4 linked regions of the Homo sapiens genome follow. The protein of the gene in region 1 interacts with the protein of each later gene in a pairwise test. Each region holds a gene or a part of one and is shown on either strand. Other genes may lie near its edges. The genes, in order: FAM163A, PECAM1, VIM and KIF1B.

Evidence for each region.
Region 2: the proteins of FAM163A (region 1) and PECAM1 interact in binary tests that used the Homo sapiens proteins (3 or more experiments, as listed by UniProt).
Region 3: the proteins of FAM163A (region 1) and VIM interact in binary tests that used the Homo sapiens proteins (3 or more experiments, as listed by UniProt).
Region 4: the proteins of FAM163A (region 1) and KIF1B interact in binary tests that used the Homo sapiens proteins (3 or more experiments, as listed by UniProt).

What each region holds. Positions count from the first base shown.
Region 1 is NC_000001.11:179,808,892-179,816,444, reverse strand, and holds the end of FAM163A (protein FAM163A), read right to left. Parts: intron 7,121-7,553; exon of another isoform or gene 6,999-7,120; intron 6,764-6,998; exon of another isoform or gene 6,512-6,763; intron 4,336-6,511; 5' UTR 4,314-4,335; intron 3,670-4,313; exon of another isoform or gene 3,370-3,669; 5' UTR 3,348-3,369; coding exon 3,255-3,347; intron 2,667-3,254; coding exon 2,256-2,666; 3' UTR 247-2,255; downstream 1-246.
Region 2 is NC_000017.11:64,359,500-64,367,052, reverse strand, and holds part of PECAM1 (platelet endothelial cell adhesion molecule precursor), read left to right. Parts: intron 1-3,655; coding exon 3,656-3,904; intron 3,905-6,637; coding exon 6,638-6,913; intron 6,914-7,553. UniProt on the Homo sapiens protein: Cell adhesion molecule which is required for leukocyte transendothelial migration (TEM) under most inflammatory conditions.
Region 3 is NC_000010.11:17,230,798-17,238,203, forward strand, and holds the end of VIM (vimentin), read left to right. Parts: intron 1-2,789; coding exon 2,790-2,885; intron 2,886-2,972; coding exon 2,973-3,134; intron 3,135-3,895; coding exon 3,896-4,021; intron 4,022-4,371; coding exon 4,372-4,592; intron 4,593-5,048; coding exon 5,049-5,092; intron 5,093-5,496; coding exon 5,497-5,582; intron 5,583-6,432; coding exon 6,433-6,474; 3' UTR 6,475-6,796; downstream 6,797-7,406. UniProt on the Homo sapiens protein: Vimentins are class-III intermediate filaments found in various non-epithelial cells, especially mesenchymal cells. Vimentin is attached to the nucleus, endoplasmic reticulum, and mitochondria, either laterally or terminally.
Region 4 is NC_000001.11:10,213,540-10,221,092, forward strand, and holds part of KIF1B (kinesin-like protein KIF1B), read left to right. Parts: intron 1-7,553. UniProt on the Homo sapiens protein: Has a plus-end-directed microtubule motor activity and functions as a motor for transport of vesicles and organelles along microtubules.

The sequences.
Region 1 (7,553 bases):
GCACTAGGAAGTGGGGAACGCTGCCAGGCCCAGCAGCTCATCAGGAGCTTGCACTTGGCCCAGTTAGGGCTGGCCGTGGGACGGGCTTGTTGAAGCTGCTGCCGCCATAAGCTGCCCCTCTGCACCAGGAGACAGATCCCATTACCCCACCTACAGCTGCTTCCTGGTACAAGAGAAGAGTTACCATTTGAAATGACTCCACAGGAGAGTCTGACAAACATGTTTGCTTTTCACTGACAATTAAAATTGTTTTGCTGCTAATCTTGTTTTATTGTGGTCTTTCATCCATCAGCAAGCATCCCTGCACGCAAGATCAGAGTTGGGTAAATACATCCAGACCCTGCCAGGATTAGGGCAAGAGGGAGTGCTCTGGGCCGGCAGATCTTTTTCGGAAATTCTCACTTCTTGGAGCACTAAAGGGTTGTTAGTCTATCTGGGCAAGCCTCGTTTCCCTGGAGAAAATGGAGTCTCAGAGATTAGTGACTGGTCCTAGAGCTAATGAGTGACCAAAGTGTGACCAGAGCCCAGGTCTGCTTCTCAACCCAGGGCACTTTGATTCCAGATTGAGATGTAAGGTGACAGGTGCCTTAATAGTGGCGCAAAAGATGTGCATTCCCCTCTTCCTCCCTCCCCGCTCCCTGCTCCCCCAGCGGCACCCTGACCTTCCTCAAATGCAGAATCAAGATTTCAGCAGGGGGGCCAGCCCTTTCCCTGCCCCACCCTCCTCGAATTCAGTGACTCAGGAGTGGGAAGGGGGTTAGCTATGCCCTTAGAAGGGGGCCAGCTTCTGCAGAGGCCACTGGAAAACTCATCAGGATTCTCACTCACAAAGCCACTGCCACATTCTAAGTAGGAAGTCGGAGTTGGAAATGAGGCTGGTGTGAGACACAATAAATGGCTCATCGCCAGGAAACTGGGGAGTAGGGCGGCCAAGGGAGGGCGGCGAGCGTGGAATCCCAAGGCTAAGTCACGTCCCTCCCATCCTCAGGACTGGGCTGTTGCTCTGGTGAGATGAATGAAGATCCTGCTCCACGGCGTCACAGGTGGATGCTTACATAGAATGCCGGGCTCTGGGGGACTTGACGTGGTTTCAGCCGCTGCAGCATCGCCCCACAGAGATTCTGTGCTCTTCCTGTTCACCAGCCCGCTGTCTGCCATGGGGATTGGTCACGTGTTAACCACCTTTCGTTCAAGCTGTTTCGGGATCAGACTTTTCCTTCTCTGGTACATGGGAGACCTTTCCTCTCTGCAGCTCCTGAATGTACAAAGCCCCTGGTGCCTACCCGTGGTTACTGTGTGTGTGTGTGTGTGTGTGTGTGTGTGTGTGTGTCTGTGCGCGCGCGCGCGCGTGCGTACACCTGGGAACGGTTATGCACACCCTCACAGGACTGCATCCACACAAGCTACTCGGCGTGGTGGGCTGGGCCGAGAGACAGTCAGCTGGTCTCTTTGCTAAGCTACCAGAAGTCGGCTAACAAAATGAAAAAACTTCTCCAGCAGGGGGCGCTGGTTCCTAAGTCAGAGAAAGGATTTCGGGGAACACAAGGTTAGACACTTTCTGGTGCAGTCCCCACAAGCCACCTTAGGCTTTAAAGTCAACTTGACACGTCCCACGAGGAAGGGGGCAGGTGAGATGTGATACGTTCAGGAATCAACGACCCTACGGGAGCAGCTACAGTGACAGCAGTAGCTATGGTAACCAACGTACAAAGCTGGGCTGTGAACTAGCTGTTGGAGTCGTTTCAGCAAGCGCGTCCTGAAGCAGTGCCGTTGACGCCCCGCCCCTCGCTTCTCCAATGCTGGAATTGTAGCTCTCACTTCTCTCCTTGCCCTCTGTCCCCTTTTCCTAGGCACGGATGCTTCATCTCCCGAGGACCCGGGAGGCCTCCTGAGCCTTTGCTGAGCTTTCCCTGGTGCTCCTTTTTGCAGTCCAGCGAATCCAGGGGACTGGGGCACACTGCAAGGGGTTGTGGTGGTGCTGGGGCTGCCAGAGGAGTGTCCCAACCAAGAAACTGGCGAAGCTGCAGACTCGACCTAGCAGTCCCCCACCTCTGGCCCACAGAGTTGGAGCCAGGCCCTGTCTTGGTTCTCAATGCACTCAAAAGCTTAAATCCTAGTAAACCCTCCACTGCGGAGCGAGAAAAGCCAAAGAAACAGAAACAACCCATGTGGGGCTGTTGGAGGGTCATTCATCACCCCCATGGCCCCCGCCAGGGCAGCAGTGTGGGTGTGTGTGCGGGTCGGGGTGGAAGGATTTACACGTCTGTACTAATAGCCCTTGGATTGGTGAAGGCCTCACGCCCAGAGCCTGGCCAGGTCACCGGGTAACTCTGGGGTGCTGCCAATTTGAGGGATGGGGGTCCCCCCTCTTTGTAGTATGTGGGAGCAAAGGAGAGCCTCTCGCCTCCACCCCCATTGGGCACCATGTCAGCCGTCCGTATGTAAAAGGGGGAGCTGTATGGGGAGCAGGTAGTGCAGTGGCTCGCGGCCACCCCACAGGGCTGGCTGCAGGGCTCGCTGGTGAGAGGCGCCAGGCTGCCTCTGCCGTCCAGGGCTTGGGAGCTGCAGGCATTGCAGGTGGGGCCTCTGGGATGCGTGGGAAGGTCGTGCTCCCGCTCCTCCTCCTCGTCTGCAACCTCGGTTCCGCTCTTCTTGCAGCAGTAATACTGTGCGGAAGGGCAGAGGGATGCCTGAGAGGGTGAATGCTCCCCCCGCCCCATGCATTTTTGAGCGTGCACAGGTGCCCCTGTCCCCTGCTCCATGGAGAACCTAGTGCCAGGCACTGAACCCCAGGGGCCTGCTCCACAAGTTTCTAATCCCAGCTTTGCAAGGCCAGTACTGCTTTCCTTTTCCCCTCCCACCACTCCTCGCAGTAACTCCAGGCTGTAGTTGAGCGGGGCAGGGACACACACATCATATTGAGGACAGGGCTGGAGCTGCTGGCGGCAGCTTTCAGAGCCTCCCCAGAATGGTGCTCTTCCCATGCTCCTGAAATCTCAGAGGTGCAGGAGACACAACCCAATGACCCCGTATCTTTCCAGCACACTTTCTGTGTGCTCTGAGTGGGCAGGCTGGGGGGCACTTAGCTCCCTTCCGACCAGCCCCAACTCCCATCCTCCTTGACTTACGCCTGCTACATTCCATAGCTTTGGGCTCTGTGGGCCCTGAAGTCGGCCTCCAGTTTCTGCCCCCATAATGAAAAAGAGGTTTGCTGGTGGCCTGGCAGCCTCTGGCTACGGGTCCCGGGGACTGACCTGGAGCCTGCAGTAGCACAGGACGGCAATGATGCAGAGGAGGATCACCGTAGCTAGGATTCCGCCAGTGATCACAACCGTTCCCGCTGTCATCCGCCCGGCGCCCCATCAAACTCTGCAAAGATGTGCGGAGGGCTGAGGACCAGCTGTGGCTGCAGCCCTGGGCTGGGCCGGGGGGAGTCTTCCTGGAACTGCCCCGAGGCTGGGGCAGGGGGCCTGAGAGCAGCAGGTGCCGGGAGGGCCAGGCCCCAGGGGTTTCCTGAAGGCTGAGGACGACTGTGGCTCCAGACTGGGCCAGCCTAAGTGGGCGAAGTTGAGTACCCAGTTTCAAAAAGTTCTCACGATCTTTCCCCTTTGGTGCTCTTCTCGCCTTTCCTCTCCCGTCACACCCTTCTTAGCTCCCGCTTCTGCGTGGCTGCAGACACAGAGGAACAGCTGCCGCTGATTGCGGGGCTCCTCCCTGTGTGGCATCATGCTAAGCACCCCCACGCATCTTACTACATCCTCGCGATAACCCTTCGGGGCAGTTATTAGCTATCCCTACCGCACGCATGCTGAACGGGGCTGCGAATAATTTGGCTGCGATTCCACCCAGCCCGTTCATCCCAAAGGCTGTGCTCTTGATCCCCGCCCTCTTGGCACACACCCCAGTGGTCCCTGAGCCTTTGGCCCGGGCTGGCGGGGAAAGGGCCACATCTCGAAAACACCAGGTGGCTCTTCTCTGGCTCAAACCAGCACTTCTTTTGGGGGTATCTCTCTTCTCCTTCAAACCCTCCTGGAAAACAAAGGCAAGGCGAGCCCAGAGGGAGTGGTGTGTGGCATTCTGGGCCCTGGAAGGCTGTGGCCAAGCTGGGGAGACTGGTCCTGGCTTCTGAGGCTGAATGAACAGGACAGAGGCAAGCTCTGGGCATGAGGCTGTCATGGCTTCAGACAGATTCTCCTTTTAGGTCAGTGAATGGGGATTTCTGAGCCTCCCAGGTGCATTGGGACCAAGGGGCAGGAGGGTGGGGAATGGGAAGTTGGCATCTTGGAGATGGAAAAATGACTACGATCACTTACATTCAGTAAAGGGAACGGCGACCTGCAAGACAACAGAAAGGACAGAGATGTTGGAAGAAGAGAGTTACTCACTGAAAAAGGCCAGAAGGGTTAGATGATTCCCAGACAACCCTCATTTTGCTTTCTTCGCTGTGTGGCATATCATCAGTGAGCCCACAGACCCCAAGTCCAGGTCTCCAGCTGGGTCTCCAGCTGCTAGTAGATAGACATTTCAGTGGATGTCCCAGTGGTCATCTCAAACTCAGTTATGACAGGTTAAAGTCACCACCCTGCTCTCCAAATGGACTCCTCTCCTCCGACCTGTCTGGAGGCTCTGTTGGTGGCTCCACCAGAGCTGTCCCGAAGGGCTTTGCAAATTGTTTATTACTCAAAGGGCAAGTGGGGGCTAGAACCCAACTGCACTGTGCTCACAAAGCTATGCACCCTGGTGTGTTCACCAGGTAAAAGGGGGTGCCTTTATCTCTTTACCCAAAGATATCACATGTCCACCACTGTCCTCTTAGAGGGCTGCACCTGCCCGGCAGTGTGGCTCCAAATCCACTCCCGCTCTGTGGACCAGCAGCGTGGGCATCACCTGGGAGCACCATTAGAAAGATAGCATCTCAGGCCCCCCACAGGCCTAATGAGTCAGAGTTTGCATTTTAACAAGGTCCCAATTGAGTAGGTTGCACATTAGAGTTTGACAAGCCCATGGGACGTTCCCCTAGCTGCCCAGAATTTAAACTCCTCAAATTCTTCTTTGGCTACCCCAGTCTTCTGTCCCCCACACCAGTGAAGACTCATCACCTCTCAAGCTGCACTGGCACAATGGTTTCCTAACAAACCTTCCCAGTTTTGTCTCTGAGTACCCTTCCTGCCACCAGCTGTTAAGCCTTCCTTCATACCCCTGGGCCTTTCTGTGACTCTCATGCACCACATTGCCTGCAGGATACATTTATCTGCCCATAAACTTTTAGAGACAGCTTCAAAGACATTGCCATCCCCCACGTTCCTGCACACTTACCCTATTTATCTTTCCCTCCTCACCTCCCTTTCTTCCGCTTACGTGATCCACTGCCCCATCATGCAGTCCCACTGTTCTTTTTTTTGGAGACAGAGTCTCACTCTGTCCCTCAGTCTGGAGTGCAGTGGCACAATCTTGGCTCACTGCAACCTCTGCCTGCTGGGTTCCAGTGATTCTCGTGCCTCAGCCTCCCGAGTAGCTGGGATTATAGACGTGCAACCCCACACCGGGCTAATTTTTGTATTTTCAGTAGAAACGGGGCTTCACCATGTTGGCCAGGCTGGTCTCAAACTCCTGACCACCCACCAAGGTGGGTGATCCACCCGCCTTGGCCTCCCAAAGTGCTGGGATTACAAGTGTGAGCCATAGTCCTACAGTTCTTAAGCAGCTTATTGCCTAGTGATGAAAAGATACGGGGCAAACCTTAGGATACAGTGTGAGACTCGCAGCCACAGAATTGCAGACTAGAGTTGCGGAACCTAGAGTGGGGCAGCTACTGACTGAGGGGAGATGCTCCACTGCAGGTGTTGTATTGAGCTGAATCCTAAAAGCTGAGTGAAAGCTTATCCAGTAGACAAGGTGGGGAGGGCAGAATGAACAGTCCAGGGGTGTGAGAAAACAGTTCCAGGAACTGCGAGGGATCTGGCGAGGCTGGGACAGGCCAGGGCAGGCATGCAGCTGCAGAGGCTGCAACCCGGTCAAGGAATCCAGATGAACTCTCTTGGAGACCCTGGGGGTTTCCTGACGGGGCTTTTGACAGGGGAGCGTGTGGCCTTTCTTTTTCCATCTGTTTAAATCCTGCCCATCCTTCAAGGTTCTGAGAAGCCTCCCCTGACTGCCCCAGCCCTGAAGCTCTCTCACTTCTGGGCTCCTATTGCAATGCCCTTCATGGTTTGCTCTTCAAATCCCGCTTGGTGGGATGAGAGTCAACTTTTCATGTGGGAACATCTTGACTCCTCCACTATATTATAAGTCCTCTGGGATCAAGGGTTGTGTCTTACACGGTCTCCTATCCCCTGCAGCCTTATACACCATGCCTGACACATACCGGGTACTTAATAAAAGCTCACTGTTTAGCTTGTCACAGCCCTGGCAGTTATGACTCTGACAGACCACCAGGGGGCAGCAAGCTGTACCTCTCAGCTCAATCCCATCTGCAGACTTGAGCGTCACTGTTCGAGACCACTTTGATTTTGCCCAGGTGCATGGCGGGCCATGCTTCAGGGGTTTCTTGGGGCATCTGGAGGCGGGGTCAGATGAATCTCAGCGTGGGGAAGGCTTAGGCACTTTCACTACAGCACCACTTCATCCCCTCACCACTTCCCTGCATATTCGTCGCTGAGGGCTGCTTATGGACAGAGAGGTCTAGGAGTGACCTGAAGCTGGGGAGGCAGCAGTGATCCACCCCACAGACAGGCTTGGACTAGTGTTCCAGGATGTGCCAAGCCTATTTTAGGAGACAGGGAATTATGGAGAAGCTGTATAAGAACAGTGCCCTCCCTCCTCCCTGCCCCTGTGCTGGACCACCCCTCTTTCAGGACCACGCAGGCTGTGCACGGCAATGGCCTGGACATCGGGGGCATGGCAGTGTGGGCAGAGCTGGGGTTCTCAAGGCCCAGGTTCGAGGATCACCTGTGCCACTGAGCAGCTACCCCATATTGGAAAATGACCTTCTTTCTCACTTGTAAAGCAAAGATGAACAAAACGCTCAGCTCTCACATTCCTCTCACGTCTCCCTTGCCAGTAGGATTGCGAGGAATCGTAACCAAGGCTTGCCTCTCTTCCTCTGAATTCTCAAGTGTGACTGTGAGGAAAGAGGGGGATGGGTGTGAGAGCTCTTTGTGAACTAGAAAAGACCCCACAAACATGGTTTTGGGGGGCCTCGACATGTTGTGGCTGTTTAGGTCTGGCCTTAAAATCATAAGCCAGGAAGGGACATGTACAGGGTATGAGATGAACTAATCAGCTCTCAACCAGTTTCCCTGAAGCCCCAGTACTAATGGAAAAAAAAAATTTTTTTTTGAGACAGGGTCTTGCTCTGTCACCCAGGATGGAGTGTAGTGCTGCAATCTCGGCTCACTGCAGCCTCAACTTCCAGGGCCCAAGCGATCCTCCCACCTCAGCCTCCCAAGTAGCTGGGACCAAAGGCATGTGCTACCACGGCTGGCTAATTTCTGTACTAATGGTACAGTTTAGCATTTAAATTCCCACATTCAGTGGCTCTCTATGATTTCAGG
Region 2 (7,553 bases), on another chromosome or scaffold:
ATTACAAGCTGCAAAACTTTTCTTTTGTTGCTTTTTTTTTTTTTTTGAAATGGAGTTTCAGTCTCTTTTTTTATTATTATTATACTTTAAGTTTTAGGGTACATGTGCACAATGTGCAGGTTAGTTACATATGTATACATGTGCCATGCTGGTGTACCGCACCCATTAACTCGTCATTTAGCATTAGGTATATCTCCTAATGCTATCCCTCCCCCCTCCCCCCACCCCACTACAGTCCCCAGAGTGTGATGTTCCCCTTCCTGTGTCCATGTGTTCTCATTGTTCAATTCCCACCTATGAGTGAGAAGATGCGGTGTTTGGTTTTTTGTCCTTGCTATAGTTTACTGAGAATGATGATTTCCAATTTCATCCATGTCCCTACAAAGGACATGAACTCATCGTTTTTTATGGCTGCATAGTATTCCATGGTGTATATGTGCCACATTTTCTTAATCTGGTCTATCATTGTTGGACATTTGGATTGGTTCCAAGTCTTTGCTATTGTGAATAGTGCCACAATAAACATACGTGTGCATGTGTCTTTATAGCAGCATGATTTATAGTCCTTTGGGTATATACCCAGTAATGGGATGGCTGGGTCAAATGGTATTTCTAGTTCTAGATCCCTGAGGAATCGCCACACTGACTTCCACAATGGTTGAACTAGTTTACAGTCCCACCAACAGTGTAAAAGTGTTCCTGTTTCTCCACATCCTCTCCAGCACCTGTTGTTTCCTGACTTTTTAATGATCGCCATTCTAACTGGTGTGAGATGGTATCTCATAGCGGTTTTGATTTGCATTTCTCTGATGGCCAGTGATGGTGAGCATTTTTTCATGTGTTTTTTGGCTGTATAAATGTCTTCTTTTGAGAAGTGTCTGTTCATGTCCTTCGCCCACTTTTTGATGGGGTTGTTTGTTTTTTTCTTGTAAATTTGTTTGAGTTCATTGTAGATTCTGGATATTAGCCCTTTGTCAGATGAGTAGGTTGCAAAAATTTTCTCCCATTTTGTAGGTTGCCTGTTCACTCTGATGGTAGTTTCTTTTGCTGTGCAGAAACTCTTTAGTTTAATTAGAGCCCATTTGTCAATTTTGGCTTTTGTTGCCATTGCTTTTGGTGTTTTAGACATGAAGTCCTTGCCCATGCCTATGTCCTGAATGGTAATGCCTAGGTTTTCTTCTAGGGTTTTTATGGTTTTAGGTCTAATGTTTAAGTCTTTAATCCATCTTGAATTAATTTTTGTATAAGGTGTAAGGAAGGGATCCAGTTTCAGCTTTCTACATGTGGCTAGCCAGTTTTCCCAGCACCATTTATTAAATAGGGAATCCTTTCCCCATTGCTTGTTTTTCTCAGGTTTGTCAAAGATCAGATAGTTGTTGATATGCGGCGTTATTCCTGAGGGCTCTGTTCCGTTCCATTGATCTATATCTCTGTTTTGGTACCAGTACCATGCTGTTTTGGTTACTGTAGCCTTGTAGTATAGTTTGAAGTCAGGTTGCGTGATGTCTCCAGCTTTGTTCTTTTGGCTTAGGATTGACTTGGTGATGCGGGCTCTTTTTTGGTTCCATATGAACTTTAAAGTAGTTTTTTCCAATTCTGTGAAGAAAGTCATTGGTAGCTTGATGGGGATGGCATTGAATCTATAAATTACCTTGGGCAGTATGGCCATTTTCACGATATTGATTCTTCCTACCCATGACCATGGAATGTTCTTCCATTTGTTTGTATCCTCTTTTATTTCATTGAGCAGTGGTTTGTAGTTTTCCTTGAAGAGGTCCTTCATGTCCCTTGTAAGTTGGATTCCTAGGTGTTTTATTCTCTTTGAAGCAATTGTGAATGGGAGTTCACTCATGATTTGGCTCTCTGTTTGTCTGTTATTGGTGTATAAGAATGCTTGTGATTTTTGTACATTGATTTTGTATCCTGAGACTTTGCTGAAGTTGCTTATCAGCTTAAGGAGATTTTGGGCTGAGACAATGGGGTTTTCTAGATATCCAATCATGTCATCTGCAAACAGGGACAATTTGACTTCCTCTTTTCCTAATTGAATACCCTTTATTTCCTTCTCCTGCCTAATTGCCCTGGCCAGAACTTCCAACACTATGTTGAATAGGAGTGGTGAGAGAAGGCATCCCTGTCTTGTGCCAGTTTTCAAAGGGAATGCTTCCAGTTTTTGCCCATTCAGTATGATATTGGCTGTGGGTTTGTCATAGATAGCTCTTATTATTTTGAGATACGTCCCATCAATACCTAATTTATTGAGAGTTTTTATCATGAAGGGTTGTTGAATTTTGTCAAAGGCCTTTTCTGCGTCTATTGAGATAATCATGTGGTTTTTGTCTTTGGTTCTGTTTATATGCTGGATTACATTTATTGATTTGTGTATATTGAACCAGCCTTGCATCCCAGGGATGAAGCCCACTTGATCATGGTGGATAAGCTTTTTGATGTGCTGCTGGATTTGGTTTGCCAGTATTTTATTGAGGATTTTTGCATCAATGTTCATCAAGGATATTGGTCTAAAATTCTCTTTTTTGGTTGTATCTCTGCCCGGCTTTGGTATCAGGATGATGCTGGCCTCATCATCCTGAGGGAGGATTCCCTCTTTTTCTATTGACTGGAATAGTTTCAGAAGGAATGGTACCAGTTCCTCCTTGTACCTCTGGTAGAATTCGGCTGTGAATCCATCTGGTCCTGGACTCTTTTTGGTTGGTAAGCTATTGATTATTGCCACAATTTCAGATCCCGTTATTGGTCTATTCAGAGATTCAACTTCTTCCTGGTTTAGTCTTGGGAGAGTGTGTGTGTTGAGGAATTTATCCATTTCTCCTAGATTTTCTAGTTTATTTGCTTAGAGGTGTTTGTAGTATTCTCTGATGGTAGTTTGTATTTCTGTGGGATCGGTGATGATATCCCCTTTATCATTTTTTATTGCGTGTATTTGATTCTTCTCTCTTTTTTTCTTTATTAGGCTTGCTAGCGGTCTATCAATTTTGTTGATCCTTTCAAAAAACCAGCTCCTGGATTCATTAATTTTTTGAAGGGTTTTTTGTGTCTCTATTTCCTTCAGTTCTGCTCTGATTTTAGTTATTTCTTGCCTTCTGCTAGCTTAAGGAGTTTCATTCTTGTTGCCCAGGCTGGAGTGCAGTGGAGCAATCTCGGCTCACTGCAATCTCTGTCTCCTGGGTTCAAGGGATTCTCTTGCCTCAGCCTCCCAAGTATCTGGGATTACAGGCGCCCACCACCATGCTGGCTAATTTTATATTTTTAGTAGAGATGGGGTTTCACCATGTTGCCCAGGCTGGTCTCAACTCCTGACCTCAGGTGATCCACCCACCTCTGCCTCCCAAAGTGCTGGGATTACAGGCATGAGCCACCACACCTGGCCACAAGTTGCAAAACTTTTCTAATCCTTGTCATTGAAATAAATTGGATTAACAAGAAAGGAAAACCTGCCATTGGAATCCTAGGCAAAGAATGAACCCTAGCTCCTTACTGGGGTGATCGTTAGGTACATGAGAAGCAAAGGAAAACTTTTTGCTGGAAGTTGGAAGTTGGTTCTGCCAAGAGCACCTGAGCCAAGGGCCTCTCCAGGAAGGGTCTTTAGGGTGGTGGCCAGACACATCTCGCTCCATTCCCACTCACTGTTTTTCAGAACTATTTTCCAAGCCCGAACTGGAATCTTCCTTCACACATCTGGACCAAGGTGAAAGACTGAACCTGTCCTGCTCCATCCCAGGAGCACCTCCAGCCAACTTCACCATCCAGAAGGAAGATACGATTGTGTCACAGACTCAAGATTTCACCAAGATAGCCTCAAAGTCGGACAGTGGGACGTATATCTGCACTGCAGGTATTGACAAAGTGGTCAAGAAAAGCAACACAGTCCAGATAGTCGTATGTGGTGAGTATATTGTTGCTGACTCAGAGGACATCCAGGGTTGAATGGGAGAAAGGAAATTTATCTGCAGCTGCCGCCCTCTCCGGTCTGAGCAGACTCAGGCAGGGTAAGAACTAGAGGGAGAGAAGTGCGAAATCAAAGGCCAAAGAAACAAGGAGGTATTCCTGCTCAGAACACTGATTCACTGATGATGATGTGGCCTCTGACTTGCTAAGATTCTGGCAAGATTCTGCCTCCTGGAGCAAGTACCCACCCAAAAGTTCAGGAAGGAAACACTACTTAGTCAATGTTAAACTTTTCTTTTTTTTTTTTTTGAGACGTGTCGCCCAGGCTAGAGTGCAGTGGCACGATAGCTCACTGCAACCTCTGCCTCCTAGGTTCAAGTGATCTCCTGCCTCAGCCTCCCAAGTAGCTGGGATTACAGGTGCCCACCACCATGTCTGCCTAATTTTTGTATTTTTATTTTTATTACTTTTATTTATTTATTTATTTATTTTTTTGAGATGCAGTCTCGCTCTGTCACCCAGGCTGGAGTGCAGTGGCACAATCTGGGCTCACTGCAAGCTCCGCCTCCTGGGTTCACGCCATTCTCCTGCCTCAGCCTCCCAAGTAGCTGGGACTACAGGCACCCGCAACCACGCCCGGATAATATTTTTTTGTATTTTTAGTAGAGATGGGGTTTCACCGTGTTAGCCAGGATGGTCTCCATCTCCTGACCTCGTGATCTGCCTGCCTCAGCCTCCCAAAGTCCTGGGATTACAGGCCTGAGCCACCACACCCGGCCAAGAATATCAAAATTCCATTTTTTAAATCTGTATCCTGGCTAACCCAAAAGGGTAAGACTTCCAGTGGACAGAATGTAGGTATTTGACCACCAGGAGCTGGGCTTCTCAGGCCTGAATGTGCATGCAAGACCTGGTTAAAATACAGGTTATGATTCAGTATTTTAGGCCCAGATGGGGCCAGGTTCTGCATCTCTAACTAGCATTTTGGTGATGTGGATGCTGTTGGTCTCTGGACCACACTTTGGGTGGCGAGATTCTGGTTGATTATAGAACTCCAGTCAAGTTGTCACTGTCACTATATTATTCAGTCACGATCCTTTCATTTAACCTGTGGCTGTGTTTTATCCAGCTAAGATTTTATTATAGCTTCAACTGAACCAGGATTTTAGCCTATTTTTAATGCTCTAACCACCTAACTCAAAAGGCAGGAATGCAAGAGACAAATGTGTGTTATAACGTTTTATTTTATTTTTTGTTCTTGGGAGGAGGAAATCTCATTGTATAAGGTTTAAATAAACTAATGCCTAAATAATGACCTAATATAATTCTTATCTGTTAAGAGGCTGAAGCACTAAGAAGACTTTTTTTATCTTTTTTTTTTTTTTTTTTTTTTGAGATGGAGTTTTGCTCTTGTTACCCAGGCTGGAGTGCAATGACATGATCTCGGCTCACTGCAACCTCTGCCTCCCGGGTTCAAGCGATTCTCCTGCCTCAGCCTCCCGAGTAGCTAGGATTACAGGCATGTGCCACCTTGCCCAGCTAATTTTGTATTTTCAGTAGAGACGGGGTTTCTCTACATTGGTCAGGCTGGTCTTAAAGTCCTGACCTCAGGTGATCTGCCCACCTCGGCCTCCCAAAGTGCTGGGATTACAGGCATGAGCCACCGTGACTGGCTGAGAATAATTTAAAAACATATATATTGGCTGGACCTGGTGGCTCACACCTGTAATCCCAACAATTTGGCAGGCCAAGGTGGGTGGATCACCTGAGGTCAGGAGTTTGAGGCCAGCCTGGCCAACATGGTGAAACCCCCTCTCTACTAAAAATACAAAAGTTAGCCGGGTGTGGTGGCACATGCCTGTAATCCCAGCTACTCGGGAGGCTGAGGCAGGAGAATCCCTTGGACCCAGGAGGTGGAGGTTGTGGTCAGCTGAGATTGCGCCATTGCACTCCAGCCTGGGTGACAGAGCAAGACTCGGTCTCAGAACACACACACACACACACACACACACACACATATATGCTCAGCCAGGTGTGGTGGCTCATACTTATAATCCCAGCACTTTGGGCAGCTGATGTGGGAGGATCACTTGAGTCCAGGAGTTCAAGACCAGCCTGAGCACATAGTGAGACCCTGTCTCTACAAAAAATAAAGAATTAGCCAGGTGTGGTGTGCACCTATAGTCCCAGCTACTCGGGAGGCTGAGGTAGGAGGATTGCTTGATTCTGGGAGGTTGTAGTGAGCTGTCATCGCACCAGTGCACTCCAGCCTGGGTAATAGAGTGAGACCCTGTCTCAAATACACACACACACACACACACACACACACACATTTTGTTGGCTACTTGTTGTACTTTTTCTATGTTTTCTGTGTCTTTGCTCAACACAAGAAAAGTATATTATGTGTGCATGTGCGTGTGAGATATGGTAAAATATGAACATGTATTTCTGGGGATGTAATGTTTTCCTTGAATTTCTGTCATTCTCTGTTTTGCTTATTGTACTTCTCTTTCCCTTTCCCTTCTCACCACACACACACACACACACACACACACACACACACAGCCTGTCAGTCTCATAGGTGTCCTATAAAGGTAAATAAGGCAGGCAGGCATTTGAAATTACAGCAGGGATAGAAAGCAAAGCTCAGGCTTTGGAGGAGGAACCTCTTGTGCTGGATGCTTTGCTTTTACCTTCAGTGCCTTTTGGATTGTTTCTCCCTCTGTTCTAGAAATGCTCTCCCAGCCCAGGATTTCTTATGATGCCCAGTTTGAGGTCATAAAAGGACAGACCATCGAAGTCCGTTGCGAATCGATCAGTGGAACTTTGCCTATTTCTTACCAACTTTTAAAAACAAGTAAAGTTTTGGAGAATAGTACCAAGAACTCAAATGATCCTGCGGTATTCAAAGACAACCCCACTGAAGACGTCGAATACCAGTGTGTTGCAGATAATTGCCATTCCCATGCCAAAATGTTAAGTGAGGTTCTGAGGGTGAAGGTGATAGGTAAGTTGCTGTGCTGTGAGAAGAAATCATGTGGGCTTGGGGCATTCTTTCACGCCCAGGGACTGTGGGAACAATAAGAGAAGTAGGGGGCCAGGTGCGGTGGCTCATGCCTGTAATCCCAGCACTTTAGGAGGCCAAGGCCGGTGAATCATTGAGGCCAGGAGTTCAAGACCAGCCTGGCCAACATGGTGAAACCCCATCTCTACTAAAAATACAAAAATTAGCTGGGCATGGTGGCGTGCGCCTATAATCCCAGCCACTCGGGAGGCTGAGGCAGGAGAATTGCTTGAACCCAGGAAGCAGAGGTTGCACTGAGCCAAGTTGCGCCATTGCACTCCAGCCTGAGCAACAAGAGCGAAACTCCATCTAAAAAAAAAAAAAGCGAGAGAAGTAGTGGGTGCTTATGCAAAGTCCATATACTAGATATGCACCAAAGCAGGGCCAAGGTTCAGTAAAGGAGGCTGGAAAATATTTGGGGGCTATTGATGAGGACAATGTAATCTCTTTCCAGAACCTTTCAACAAACTGCTAAAATATGATAAGCATGAAAGTGTCCTGACTGCAGGAAGCACTGAAGTTGTGCATATGGGCTCCCTTAGCACTTTCTCCTTTTCAGATACACTGTTCTGAGAATTGTAGA
Region 3 (7,406 bases), on another chromosome or scaffold:
AAAAAGTGCAAAACTTCAGGGCTGCGCGTAAAGCCCTCTAGTGGCGGGAAGACCACAGGTTGGAGCTTCTCATGATTAGAAAAATATTAATAAAACCCCTTGAGCGATTTTTTTTTTTTTTTTGAGACGGAGTCTTACTCTGTCGCCCAGGCTGGAGTGCAGTGGCGAGATCTTGGCTCACTGCATCCTCCGCCTCCCGGGTTCAAGCGATCCTTGAATGATTTCTAAGCAGTTCCTTGGGACATAAAGAAAAATCTTTTAACTTTTTACTTTGTTTCCCAAATGTTGCACAGTTTTGCAACACATTGACCTTCTGGTTTCGAACGGTTACAATTTTAGATTGTGGTTTGCCAAAGTCAAGTTGCTTAATTTTTACAAGGCCACAAAAAGCGCAATTATGCCCTGCAGTTTAAAATGGAAAACGTGTTGGAAGATAAGAAAACTTAGTTTCCAACTGGAATGGAGCCAGCAAGTTTCTTTTCTTCTTTGCAAATTCTATTGTGTCATTAAAGTTCGATGGAAGTATCACTATGCACAACTATTTTGTGATCTAATAAGGGTGAAAAGGAGCCATCTGTCCCCTTGGCTAAGGGGTATTAATGGTTTCTATGGGCTTCACTATGGAATGTAGATACAGACATTCTGGCAAATGTGGTGGCTCTGGACAGAAATAATAGGAGTCTTTGTATTCCCAGGGAAGCTTTGCAACAGGCTACATTCTTACTGAATATGTAATGATGTAAGCACGGTTCTAATTGGACACAAGTATTTGCTAACATCCGTTATCTAATATCTGGCCCAGACTTGAGAAGTAGGTAATGTAAAAAGTTTTTAAAGCTACAAGCATACCTCACATTTTAAAAGTCCTTTCTTGATTGGGTTCTTGTGTTCTTTAGCACTCTTGCCATAAAAAATAATAACAGTAATAAACCCAAGGCTGAAAAACTGAATTTTAACTAAAGGGTTTTTGTGCGTGTTTTTTTTTTTTTTCACCAAAATTAGATGGACTTACAGAATTTTTAACTTAAAATTGGAATCCAAAAGCCAGAAGATCCCCATTATAGTTTATAGTTGTATTCCCTGGAATATTTACTGGGATTAACTGCAAAGCACTCTCAGATGAATAGTGTAGTATAACATTTTGAAACTGAAATACATTTACCAAATTAATTTAACCACAGCAATGTGTGTGGTTCATTTTAGTCCTTGAGCATTTTTGATTATCATACCTGTCATGTTTTCTGCAGTGTAGTGAGTTAACATAAAACAACATCAATACAAAAGATCCTCTGTTTCGAGATTAAGCAAAATTCCTCATTCTCTTCAATGTGATAGAATACCACATTGATCTTTCTTTGGAGGTTAGTAAAATATCTTTTATGTATTTTTCAGGGCTTAACAAGTAAAAATCAATGTTTTCATCAAGTCTGATCTTTTTGTCACCCACTCTTCATTCATTTTTCCACTAAGGTGATAGAAAAGTCTCAACAGTTTAAGACCGTAAGGCTATGAACTCCAAATATAATTGCTGACAAGATAAGCAATCCTCACGCATCCTTTTGAGAGGAAATAAAATCTTAGTTGCAAGATTACATATTCTGATTTGGAATGCTGAGCTTTTTAAATGGAAATATAGAAGGACGGCTGAATCAGCAAAAATCCTTTATGTAGTTTCATTCTTTGCAAGCTTGACCAGTCATTCTGAAACAGGCTAACTGAACTGATACAGTGGCAAGTGAAAAAGACATGCCTTTACAGGATGAGTCAAAGGAGTTTTAGAAGAAAAATCCACCAGAGAAAGCCAAGCAAATACAGTTCAGAGTTACATTTCTTTTCCATTTTTTCCTGAACTGAATCTTTGGCATGCATATCCTGAATTGGGTTATTGAATATAAATCTAGCCTTGTACAATGGATGCCAGATGACTACATATTTGCTTTGGAGCCTAAGGATAAGTTTCAAAAGATTTGAGTGGAGAAGAAAAGCTAAAACTCTTGAAGCACAAGTTTCTGTTCTCCATGTACTCAAGTGTACATGAAGTTGTGAAAATTTGTCCACCTCTATCATCATGTTATTCCATGAAATTACAAAACAAATCTTAAAAATGTTGTGGCATAGATTTTCTAGATTTAAAAAGTAATTAAATTAAATGAATTACTTTATTTTTTGAGACAGAGTGTCACTCTGTTGCCCAGGCTGGAGTGCAGTGGCACTATGTTGGCTCACTGCAACCTCTGCCTCCTGGGTTGAAGAAATTCTCCTGCCTCAACCTCCCAAGTAGCTGGGACTACAGGCATGTGCCACCACACCCAGCTAATTTTTGTATTTTTGGTAGAGACGGGGTTTCGCCATGTTGGCTAGGCTGGTCTCGAACTCCTGACCTCAAGTGATCCACCCGTCTCAGCCTCCCAAAGTGCTGGGATTACAGGCATAAGCCACCATGACCAGCCTTAAAAAGTAATTTTAAAATATCACTGGTAAAATGTGGATTCAGTCATGATTGAGTGCAGTTTACCATGTGTGTGGACATTTATTTATTTTAAAATTGTCTGATCACCACCTTGAGTAAAACACAAGCAGTCACAATTAAAATATATTAGTGAGCAGGAGAAAGCACAGCATATTATAGCACTGAATGATTTATAAACCTATTCCAGGGTCATAAAATGTGTCAACGGCTTTTCTATAGTAAGGAGACTAGGTTCAGATGGTTAATCTAAGACAAATAAATGAGATAAGCCATACACTTTTACATCCTCCATGTCCTGTCTTTTCTCTGTTCAAAATAGGATGTTGACAATGCGTCTCTGGCACGTCTTGACCTTGAACGCAAAGTGGAATCTTTGCAAGAAGAGATTGCCTTTTTGAAGAAACTCCACGAAGAGGTTAGTGGAGTGACTTTCGGGGAATGAATGAGGGTAAGGCAGCCCCCACGGTTGGCAGAGCTGACCGTCTGTCTGTTCTTTTTGCAGGAAATCCAGGAGCTGCAGGCTCAGATTCAGGAACAGCATGTCCAAATCGATGTGGATGTTTCCAAGCCTGACCTCACGGCTGCCCTGCGTGACGTACGTCAGCAATATGAAAGTGTGGCTGCCAAGAACCTGCAGGAGGCAGAAGAATGGTACAAATCCAAGGTAGGAAACAAATCAGTGCGGCTTCAACCAAAGAAAAGCATTGTGTTCTCAAAACCCCATACCTGTGTGTGATTCCTAAATATCCTCTAGCTCCAATGCAAAGCTGGCTTTGACTTCTTGCTCATATTGTGTTTGCCACCACAGCCTCCCCACCACTCACATCACCTCCTTTATTTATTTATTTATTTTCTTATTTATTTATGAGACAGAGTCTTGCTCTACTGCCCAGGCTGGAGTGCAGTGGCAACATCTTGGCACACTGCAACCTCCGCCTCCCAGGTTCAAGTGATTCTCCTGCCTCAGCCCCCTAAGAGCTGGAACCACAGGCAAGCACCACCATGCCCGGCTAATTTTTGTATTTTTAGTAGAGATGGGGTTTCACCATGTTGACCAGGCTTCTCTCAAACTCCTGACCTCAGGTGATCCACCCTCCTCAGCCTCCCAAAATGTTGGGATTACAGGCATGCGCCACCACGCCTGGCCACATCACCTCCTTCAGAATAGCAGACTCTCTTCCCCCTAACCTTGCCTCCAAGTAAACCCCAATGCCATACCTTTGACCTCCACTGTGTTGAAATGAGCACTGTAGAGTGAACTCTGAAAATACTAATGTCAGTACTCCACTGCTCTTTCCCTGGCTTTCAAAACAGAAATTTAAACCTATACTGGAAGACATTCAGTGAGAAATATGATTTTTTTTTTCTAAGAGAGTCAAAAGACTTGAATGTGAGCAATCTACATTTCTGTTTTCTTCCCAACAGTTTGCTGACCTCTCTGAGGCTGCCAACCGGAACAATGACGCCCTGCGCCAGGCAAAGCAGGAGTCCACTGAGTACCGGAGACAGGTGCAGTCCCTCACCTGTGAAGTGGATGCCCTTAAAGGAACCGTGAGTACCAACCCTGCAGTAAAAGAGGGAAAATAATGACCCATTCTGCTGACTAGGCTCATGATGATACCTGAACAAAATGTTGAGTGAGTAAAAATGTATATCATAATGCAAAGAAAATGAGTTATCAAGACAGACTCAAAAGGGACTTCATGGAACTCTTGAAGGTTTTAGCTTGCCTATATCATTGCTTCTAATATGAAGGACTTGGTACTCGCATTCTCCACCTAAAATTAGAGTGGTCGCCATTTGCCGCTAATGGAAATTATTGCAGAAGGTCTGTAAATGGTTCTGGGAACAGCTGGGTTTTTCTGAGAAATAACACCAGACATCTTTCTCACCCCCTGCAGAATGAGTCCCTGGAACGCCAGATGCGTGAAATGGAAGAGAACTTTGCCGTTGAAGCTGCTAACTACCAAGACACTATTGGCCGCCTGCAGGATGAGATTCAGAATATGAAGGAGGAAATGGCTCGTCACCTTCGTGAATACCAAGACCTGCTCAATGTTAAGATGGCCCTTGACATTGAGATTGCCACCTACAGGAAGCTGCTGGAAGGCGAGGAGAGCAGGTAGGGAACTCAGACTTGGATGCGTGAACTAATGGTGACCATTTGTTAGGCCCTGTGCCACTGGGCTCTAAGCAGTGTCACATTTAATCTTTAGAAAGTTTCTTTGAGGTAACTGCTTTCCACTTTTTGTAGAGGAGGAATTTGAATTGAGAGAGAGTAAGTGACTTGCTGAAAAAGGGTTAATCAACAGCAGAGCTGGGATTTGAACCCATAACTCTGTCAAAGCCTCCACTCCTAACTCCTGTTCATGCTCCTGTGGAGAAAATGCTTGTAGTAACATATTTTAAATGTACTAACAAGACCAGTCATGGGAAAATGTTTCTGAGACAAATCTCTAGTTTATGATTTAAAACAGTACGTTTTCTTACGTGACGAAAACAAAAAGTGTGTTAATTTGTTCCCAGTGGTTGAAGTTATTTGCCAACAATTTTACTGTTTCTCTTCATCTGTTTATAGGATTTCTCTGCCTCTTCCAAACTTTTCCTCCCTGAACCTGAGGGGTAAGCATTTTATTTCCCTTTAGGAAAAACGTCAGCTGCTTGTAACCACTGTGTTTATGTCAAAGCATTCATTTTTTTTAGGATATCTGAAAAAATGCCATATAAGAGAAAACTCTATAAAACATCTATAATTTTCGAACCCAAGTACACTCTTGCATTCTATGCTTTAAGTTAAATGCAAACTCCTTTTTCCTTCTTCCTGCTGCAAGTACTATCTCATCCTGATGCTCAAGAGTGTCAGGGCCTGGGTTTCCAAACAGAGACTACCCTAAAATTATTTGGCGAGTAGTACTTTACACAATTGCCTCTCCCCCACAAATCATAATTGTTTCAGTAAAATGGTTACTTGGTTTTTCCAAGAAAAAACTCGTTTTTACTCATTTTTGGCCTGTTTGTTTATTTAGAAACTAATCTGGATTCACTCCCTCTGGTTGATACCCACTCAAAAAGGACACTTCTGATTAAGACGGTTGAAACTAGAGATGGACAGGTTGGTATCTTTTAAGGAAAAAATAGGGTAATCTCAGACAGGAGTTGATATATTTTAAAATCAGTGAATCTGAATCTCAGATACAGCTGGCTAATTTGAGAGGTTCAGGTTTCATTCATGCCTACTAAAAAAAGAATAGGCTTCTTCTTCCAGCAGTACACACAGCCAACTAATTATTTGGCTCCTGGATGTGAAGTTGAGATAGCAGTCTTCCTGTGCTCCAGAATTAGTGATTTGCTTTGGTGCTTAATTTGAAGTGGGAGTAAGCTTCCTTAAACCACTTCCTAAAGCAGCTACATGAAACAGCTTCACTAGACTACCTCAATATGAGGAATGTTTTGATCCTGGACATATGGTGTCTTCCTACCTCCATACTTTATAGATTCCTAAACCCATCTATATAATACAAGCATGTGCCATACGATCATTTAGTTTCTTATTACCTCCCTATGCCAGGAAAGAAATAGTTGCAATTTATTGTAGTCATCATGAAATCTTCCCTTGCACATAAATTTAAAATGTACCTGCTGCACATTTTAATATGTCTTAATTGCTTTTAAACTTGGCTGTATTGTGTACAACTATTATACCATCTTTTATAAACACAGTTTTTTAAGAAATTTCTTTTTGTAAGTTACAACATTCCACTGGATCCTTATATTGCCTGTAGTGGAAGAGGGTCTTGTGTGTCTGCCCCTTCTAGTTTTCACTCATGCAGAAGCAACATAACCTTCTGATTTGCACAATAAATTACATATATTTAGCAGGATTTTTATTTGCCGTGATATATAGGATAATTTAGTCTTTGGCATGTGGCATTATATTTATTTTGGTTTTTTTTTTTAAACAGGTTATCAACGAAACTTCTCAGCATCACGATGACCTTGAATAAAAATTGCACACACTCAGTGCAGCAATATATTACCAGCAAGAATAAAAAAGAAATCCATATCTTAAAGAAACAGCTTTCAAGTGCCTTTCTGCAGTTTTTCAGGAGCGCAAGATAGATTTGGAATAGGAATAAGCTCTAGTTCTTAACAACCGACACTCCTACAAGATTTAGAAAAAAGTTTACAACATAATCTAGTTTACAGAAAAATCTTGTGCTAGAATACTTTTTAAAAGGTATTTTGAATACCATTAAAACTGCTTTTTTTTTTCCAGCAAGTATCCAACCAACTTGGTTCTGCTTCAATAAATCTTTGGAAAAACTCTTTTGTTGTGTTATTTATTGGATAATATCTAAACAATTCTCTACTTGGTCCTATTAGTTAATTTGTCATTACAATCATGTAAGTTGATAAATTCAGGTTATTTATGCTTGAGATGTAGTTCTTAATTTTGTCATTTTTGATAGACCTCACTTCTTTTTATTATTACTTAAAAACATTTACAAATAGGTGGTGTCGAATAAAATAACTTGTACCAAAATGAAGATAGGTCTCTCTAAAATGAGCTCAGGTCTGTGATTTTAATCATAACAAACAGACTTCCTAAAATTAAAAAATAAAAACTTTTTTTAGTACATATAGCATATGAGTAACACAAATTCCACTTTGGGAGTTAAAGCATAGGAAGTTGCCAAGATATAGGGGCTTATCTTCCGCTAGCAAGATGCAGAGAAATGGAAAAAGTTCACCAAGTTTTTCTTTTATTTAAGACAGGATCTCACTTTGTCACTCAAGCTGGAGTAAAGTGACTCAATCATAGTTCACTGCAGCCAACAACTCCTAGGCTCAGGCAATCCTCCCACCTCAGCCTCCTCAGTAGCTAGGAGTACTCAAAACAAATAAACGAATGTCTAACTTTAGCCTAAAATGTGAG
Region 4 (7,553 bases), about 170 Mb from region 1:
CTGCCTTCCTGTTTGTAATCCCCTTCCCAGGCTGCTAATCATAGTAGATCTTTTCCAGGAGGAAGCATATCCTTTTGGTCTTGTAAACTAACATGATATAATTTCATAATGCTCTGAAGTTATTTTATGTCTATTTCATGTATTTCTCTTTGAAAGATGGCCTCGTTTGAACAGGTACTGGTGAATATCTGGATTCTGTGAAACAGTGTGAATAAATATGCATACTTCTTGAACTTTTTTTGTGCAGCTTGTCAGGATAGAAGAGAAATTAAACAGATGTGACTGTGGTAGGAAAAACCTGCAAAAGGTGCCTTGGGCCGGATGCAGTGGCTCACATCTGTAATCCCAGTGCTTTGGGAGGCTGAGGCGGGAGGATTGCTTCACATCAAGAGTTTGAGACAAGCTTGGACAACATAGCAGGACCCCCATCTCTACCAAAAAAAAAAAAATCTGGATGTGGGTGGTGTGTGTTTGTAGTCCTAGTGCTTCGGAGGCTGAGTGGGGAGGATGGCTTGAGTTTGAGATTACAGTGAGCTAAGACAGCGCCATTGCACTCCACTCTGGGCTCAGACTTTGCCTGCTAAAAATAAAAAGATGCCTTGGACTTCTCAGAGTTGAACTGTTTGGTTAACGGGCCACTGATTCATTGATGCTCTTTTACTATAGGCATTACCCATTAACTGAGGGTGCATGTAGAGATTTAGTTCTTTACCTTCCAGGAACTCACACTTTACCACTTCTTTCTTTCTTTCTTTCTTTTTTTTTTTTAAGACAGAGTCTCGCCCTGTCACCCAGGCTGGAGTGCATTGGTGTGATCTCAGCTCACTGCAACCTCCGCCTCCCGGGTTCAAATGATTCTCCTGCCTCAGCCTCCCAAGTAGCTGGGATTACAGGCACCTGCCACCATGCCCAGCTAATTTTTGTATTTTTAGTAGAGATGGGGTTTCACCATGTTGGCCAGGCAGGTCTCGAACTCCTGACCTTCTGATCCGCCTGCCTTGGCCTCCCAAAGTGCTGGGATTACAGGCATGAGCCACCGTGCCCTGCCCTTTTTTTTTTTTGGGATGGAGTCTTACTCTGTCACTCAGGCTGGAGTGTAGTGGTGTGATCTTGGCTCACTGCAACCTCCACCTCCTGGGTTCAAGTGATTCTCCTGCCTCAGCCTCCCGAGCAGCTGGGACTACAGGTGCACACCACCATGCCCAGCTAATTTTTGTATTTTTAGTAGAGACGGGGTTTCACCGTATTGGCCAGGCTGATCTCGAACTCCTGACCTTGTGATCCACCCACCTCAGCCTCCCAAAGTGTTGGGATTACAGGCATGAGCTACTGCACCTGGGCTACCATTTCTATATAGAAATGGTGAGATAAAGTTAACTCCAACTCCTTTTCATTTTAGTACAATTTAGTATCCTGATATGGTTTCCGTGATTTCCAGTCAGAGCATTTTCAAAATTCTTTGTAATGTTGTATGTACATAATACTGTACTTATTATCTAATACTCAATTGGTACTTTTACATTTGTCTTGTGGTTTTTTGTATAGTGTTTGAAGTCACAAGCTTGTAAATGTTTGATGGATTTAAAAATTTATATATTTTATATATATATATATATATATATATATATATATATTTTTTTTTTTTTTTTTTTTTGAGACGGAGTTTCACTCTTGTTGCCCAGGCTGGAGTGCAACGGCGCGATCTCGGCTCACCGTAACCTCCACCTCCCAGGTTCAAGCGGTTCTCCTGCCTCAGCCTCCCTAGTAGCTGGGATTACAGGCCTGTGCCACCACGCCCAGCTAATTTTGTATTTTTAGTAAAGTAGGGGTTTCTCCATGTTGGTCAGGCTGGTCTCGAACTCCCGACCTCAGGTGATCCACCCACCTTGGCCTCCCAAAGTGCTGGGATTACAGGCATGAGCCACTGTGCCCGGCCTATTTTTTGTATTTAATATCACATTGTTTATACCAAAGCATATCATTCAACCATACTACCCTCTACCATTGCCCGTTTTTTTCCCCTTGAGACAGGCTCTTACTCTATTGCCCAGGCTGGAGTGCAGTGGCGCAGTCATGGCTCACTGCAGCCTTGACCTCCTGGGCTCAAGTGGTCCTCCTATCTCAGTCTCCTGAGTAGCTGGGATCACAGGCATGCGCTACCATGCCCAGCTAATTTTTAAATTTTTGTAGAGATGGAGGTCTCACTATATTGCCTATTGCCCAGCCTGGTCTTGAACTCCTGAGCTCAAGTGATCCACCTCAGTCTTCCAAAGTGGGAGGATTAAAGGCATGAGCCCCTGTGCCCAGCCCCATTGCTCTTTTGGATTACTATATTGTTGGCTTAGTTCTCTCTTTCATCCAGATTTTTGACATCATCTTGGCAGATGTCAATGACTATGTAAATAAACAATAACAGAAACAACAATAGTGATAAAATAGCTTATTCATATTGAGCACTTTCTGTGTGCCAGGCTTTTTTCTAAGCACTTTACGTTTATTAACTAATTTAACCCTAATAGCAGCCATATGAAATAAATACTGTTATTCCCATTTTACAGATGAAACTAAAACAGGCCAAGTGACTTCCCCAAAATCATAAGTACTAGTAAGTAACCACTATGCTGAGTTTCCTTTGTAACTACCGTTAACTGTGAAATTTCTTGAATTGAGCTCAAGCAAACATTGGCTTCATTCTGTTCCAGTTGTTTAGTGTTATGGCCACATTTTTAACTTGTCATCATGTTAAGGTCTCAAATTCACCTTCAAGTCTTAAACTGTGATAATTGATAGCTTTCACTTTCATAATCACTTTATGTGTGTTCTCCCACTCTAAGTCTCCTAAACCGTCGGCCTCTTCCAGATTTTACTTCTTTTCCTTCCTTTTCTATACTACGACCTCTGGGTTGCATTGCTTGCAGTTTTTATTCTTTCTTATTATTCTTCAGGACTTACTATGCAGAAGCCAGCCTCACATCATCCCTACCATCCATACCCTCCATTCTTACTCCGTGTCATGGAGAAACCTGCATAGTGCTGGGGATTAGTGCCACAATTAATGTGTAGTCCGAGGTCTCCCTTAAATCTGTCTTTGGTCCCTGTCGGAGCAGTTCTGCTTAGCTCCCTCCCCATTTCTCCACAGTTGCTATTATAAAATCTGGACCCCTTGACTCAAACCTGTCACTGCCCCATGCTTGGCAGAATACCTTGCCTGCCACCTCATAGGAAAAAAGGGCATGAACTCCCTGAGCTTTCCCTTCCTCTACTTACAAACTTCTCTGCCCTCTTTCTTCTGTTCTTTCCCCCAGTGTGAGAAAGAGGTTACTCTGTCTTGGCCTCTGTTAGGGATAGCACTGTTCTAATCTGTAGGAACTCGCAGTATTGGTTACTCTTCTTTTCCCTGCAGTACTTGCCCATTTTCTTTTTTTTTTTTTTTTTTTTTTTTTTTTTTTTTTGAGACAGAGTCTTGTTCTGTCACCAAGACTGGAGTGCAGTGGCCTGATCTTGGCTCACTACAACCTCTGCCTCCCGGATTCAAGTGATTCTCCTGCCTCAGCCTCCCAAGTAGCTGGGATTACAAACGTGTGCCACCACGCCCAGCTAATTTTTGTATTTTTAGTAGAGATGGGGTTTCACCGTGTTGGCCAGGCTGGTCTCAAACTCCTGACCTCAGGTGATCCGCCCGCCTCTGCCTTCCAAAATGTTGGGATTACGGGCGTGACCCATTGTGCCCAGCCTTTTCTACTGTTCTTGAACACACCAGGCATAGTCCTACCATAGGGCACTTGCTCTTACTCTTTCTTTTTCTTTTTTTTTTTTTTTTGAGACAGCCTTGCTGTGTCTCCCAGGCTGGGGTGCAGAGGCACAATCTCCTGGGTTCAAGCAATTCTCCTGCCTCGGCCACCTGAGCAGCTGGGATTATAGGCACCCACCACCAAGCCCAGCTAATTTTGTATTTTTAGTAGAGACGGTGTTTCACCATGTTGGCCAGGCTGGTCTTGAACTTCTGGCCTCAGGTGATCCACCTGCCTCAGCCTCCCAGAGTGCTGAGGTTACAGGCGTGAGCCACCGCACCCAGCTGCTCTTACTCTTTCTTCTGCCTGGAATACTTTTCCCCTGAAATCTGCTTGGCTAACTCCTTTACCTCTTTCAAGTCTTTGCTTAAATCTCAGCACATCAGCAGGCCCACCCTGACCTCATTTATGCACCTGCACAGCAATCCTTCCCACCACCACAATCTTGAACCCCCTGACTTTGCTGTACTCCCCCGTGATGCTGATTACATTCTCGATTCTCTATACCTGATTTATTAATTTTAATGTCCTCCCTCTCCCTACTAGAATGTAAATTCCTCCATGACAAGGAGGTTTGTTTATCTTTTTTGTTCACGGATTATTTTTCCCAGGAACTGCCTGTTGCATTGTAGGCACCCAGTAAATAGCTATTGAATAAAGTATAGAAATGTGCAAGTCTTTCCTATTACAAATAAAGGGCTGGGGGGAGGAAAATCCCTCCTTCGTTTCTGTTCCTTCCAATAAAATCCTTCATTCCTATTTGCTCTCTCCTGCTCATCATAGCCAGGCTCTGACAGTGTCATGGATACTGGCATTTCCCACTTCCGTGCCAACCCACTACAGGCTGGCTTCAGTGTCCCCTCCTGCCCCCCACTTCATGGATACTGCCCTTGCTGTGGTTTCCAGCCTTTATTGCTGAAACCAGGAGGCACACTTCACACTTTTGCAGTACTAAGTATGTTACTCATTTTGTTTTTTTCTTCCTTGAACTTTTGGCTACTTCTGTTTGTGGGCTGGTTTCAGTCTTCTGAAACTGCTGTTTTTCTGGCTACTCACATGGCTATTAAATTCATTCAACATAAATCTTTGTGCAACTTTTTTTTTTTTTGAGACAGAGTCTCGCTCTGTCATCCAGGCTAGAGTGCAGTGGTGTGACCTTGGCTCACTGCAACCTTCATCTCCCGGGTTCAAGTGATTCTCCTGCCTCAGCCTCCCGAGTAGCTGGGATTACAGTCATGTGCCATCACACCCAGCTAATTTTTGTATTTTTAGTAGAGACAGCGTTTCATCATGTTGGCCAGGCTGGTCTTGAACTCCTGACCTCAAGTGATCCACCCGCCTTGGCCTCCCAAAGTGTTGGGATTATACGCGTGAGCCACGATGCCCAGCCGATCTTTATGTAACTTTTAAAAGCTTGCTGTGTCGTTTGGTTTTATTTGTTTTTAGGAACTAGAACTTTGACTACACAACATATTTACAGTGTTAAATAGCAGAATAGGCTATTACAGGAAGTTTTTATTTATTTATAATTTATACCAGTTACTACTTCTAGAAAGGATTTGAGCAGCTTACCACAAATATATACAGTGAAGCTATTAAAATATAAATAAGTAAAAATTTATGTAACAAGAAAAACTAAATGTATAGGTTGCCTCGGCTAATGTGGTTATTGTAATTTAATTTGGAAACATGGAATTTAATGCAAAAAGGGAAAGATAAATTGTACAATTTTCACTCTGGTAAAAGAAAGCCTAATAGTTTGTCGAGAGAAACCTTTTTTCCTAGTATTAAATTCTAAAGATGTTCTAAGAGAAAATTGTTATAAACATCCTGATATAAAGATACGTACGGCCGGGCGCGGTGGCTCATGCCTGTAATCCCAGCACTTTGGGAGGCCGAGGCTGGTGCATCACTGAGGTTGGGAGTTTGAGACCAGCCTAACCAACATGGAGAAACCCCATCTCTACTAAAAATACAAATTTAGCCGGGCATGGTGGTGCATGCCTGTAATCCCAGCTACTTGGGAGACTGAGGCAAGAGAATCACTTGAACCTGGGAGGCGGAGGTTGCAGTGAGCCGAGATCATGCCATTGCACTCCAGCTTGGGCAACAAGAGCAAAACTCCATCTTAAAAGTAAAAAATAGGCCAGGCCTTATGGCTCACGCCTGTAATCCCAGCACTTCGGGAGGCCGAGGCAGGCGGATCACCTGAGGTCGGGAGTTTGAGACTAGCCTGACCAACATGGAGAACCCCATCTCTACTAAAAATACAAAAAAATCAGCTGAGTGTGGTGGTGCATGCCTGTAATCCCAGCTACTCGGGAGGCTGAGGCAGGAGAATCACTTGAACTCAGGAGGCAGAGGTTGTTGTAAGCTGAGATCGTGCCATTGCACTCCAGCCTGGGCAACAAGAGTGAAACTCACCTCAAAAAAATAAAAAATAAAGACTTACTAGGGCTGGGGACAGTGGCTCACACCTGTAATCCCAGCACTTTGGGAGGCCTAGGTGAGAGGATTGCTTGCGCCCAATAGTTCGGTATCAGCCTGGGCAGTGAAGCAGGATCTCATCTCTATTAAAGATAAATTTAGTGGATGGGCGCGGTGGTTCATGCTTGTAATCCCAGCACTTTGGGAGGCTGAGGCAGGCGGATCACCTGAGGTCAAGAGTTCGAGACCAGCCTGACCAACATGGAGAAACTCCGTCTCTACTAAAAATACAAAATTAGTTGGGTGTGGTGGCACATGCCTGTAATCCCAGCTACTCGGGAGGCTGAAGTAGGAGAATCACTTGAACCCGGGAGGTGGAGGTTACGGTGAGCCGAGATCGCGAGCCATTGCACTCCAGCCTGGGCAACAAAAGCGAAACTCCGTCTCAAAAAAAAAAAAAAAAATTAGGTAGGTGTGGTGGCATGTGCCTGTAGTCCCAATAACTCCAGAGGCTGAGGGAGGAGGATTGCTTGAGCCTGGGAGATTGAGGCTGCAGTGAACTGTGATTGTTCCACTGTACTCCAGCCTGGGCAACAGAGTGAGACCCTGTTTCAATAGATAGATAGATAGATAGATAGATGATAGATAGATAGATAGATAGATAGATAGATAGATAGATAGATATGTACTAAATGTTTTCAACAGCTTCTTTAAGTAAAAGGAAGAAATGTTCTTCAAATACCTTTACAAAATAAAATAAAAAATAAACAGGGCAGTGATGCATGCCTATAGTACCCAGCTACTCCTGAGGCTGAGGTACAGCCAAGGAGTTTTGAGGCTGCCATGAGCTTCAATCACACCACTCACTCCAACCTGGGCGGTGAAAAAGTGAGACCCCTTTTCTTTGTTTCTTTTCTTTTTTGAGACAGAGTTTTGCTCATGTCGCCCAGGCTGTAGCGCAATGGTATCATCTTGGCTCACTGCAACCTCCGCCTCCCAGGTTCAAGCTATTCTCCTGCCTCAGCTTCCTGAGTAGCTGGGATTACAGGTGCCTGCCGCCAAGCCCAGCTGATTTTTGTGCTTTTAATAGAGACGGAGTTTCACCATGCTGGCCAGGCTGGTCTTGAACTCCTGACCTCAAGTGATCCACCCACCTTGGCCTCCCAGAGTGCTGGGATTACAGGCATGTGCCACTGTGCCTAGCCAGATAGTAGTTAAAACATTTGGGGAGCATGACTGAGCCTGTTTAGCCATATTGGAGATTAAAAATCTGATATGTCAGGAGACTACTCGTGTATAGTCTGATTCTTGGATTGGGTTAGAATACAGAAAGAA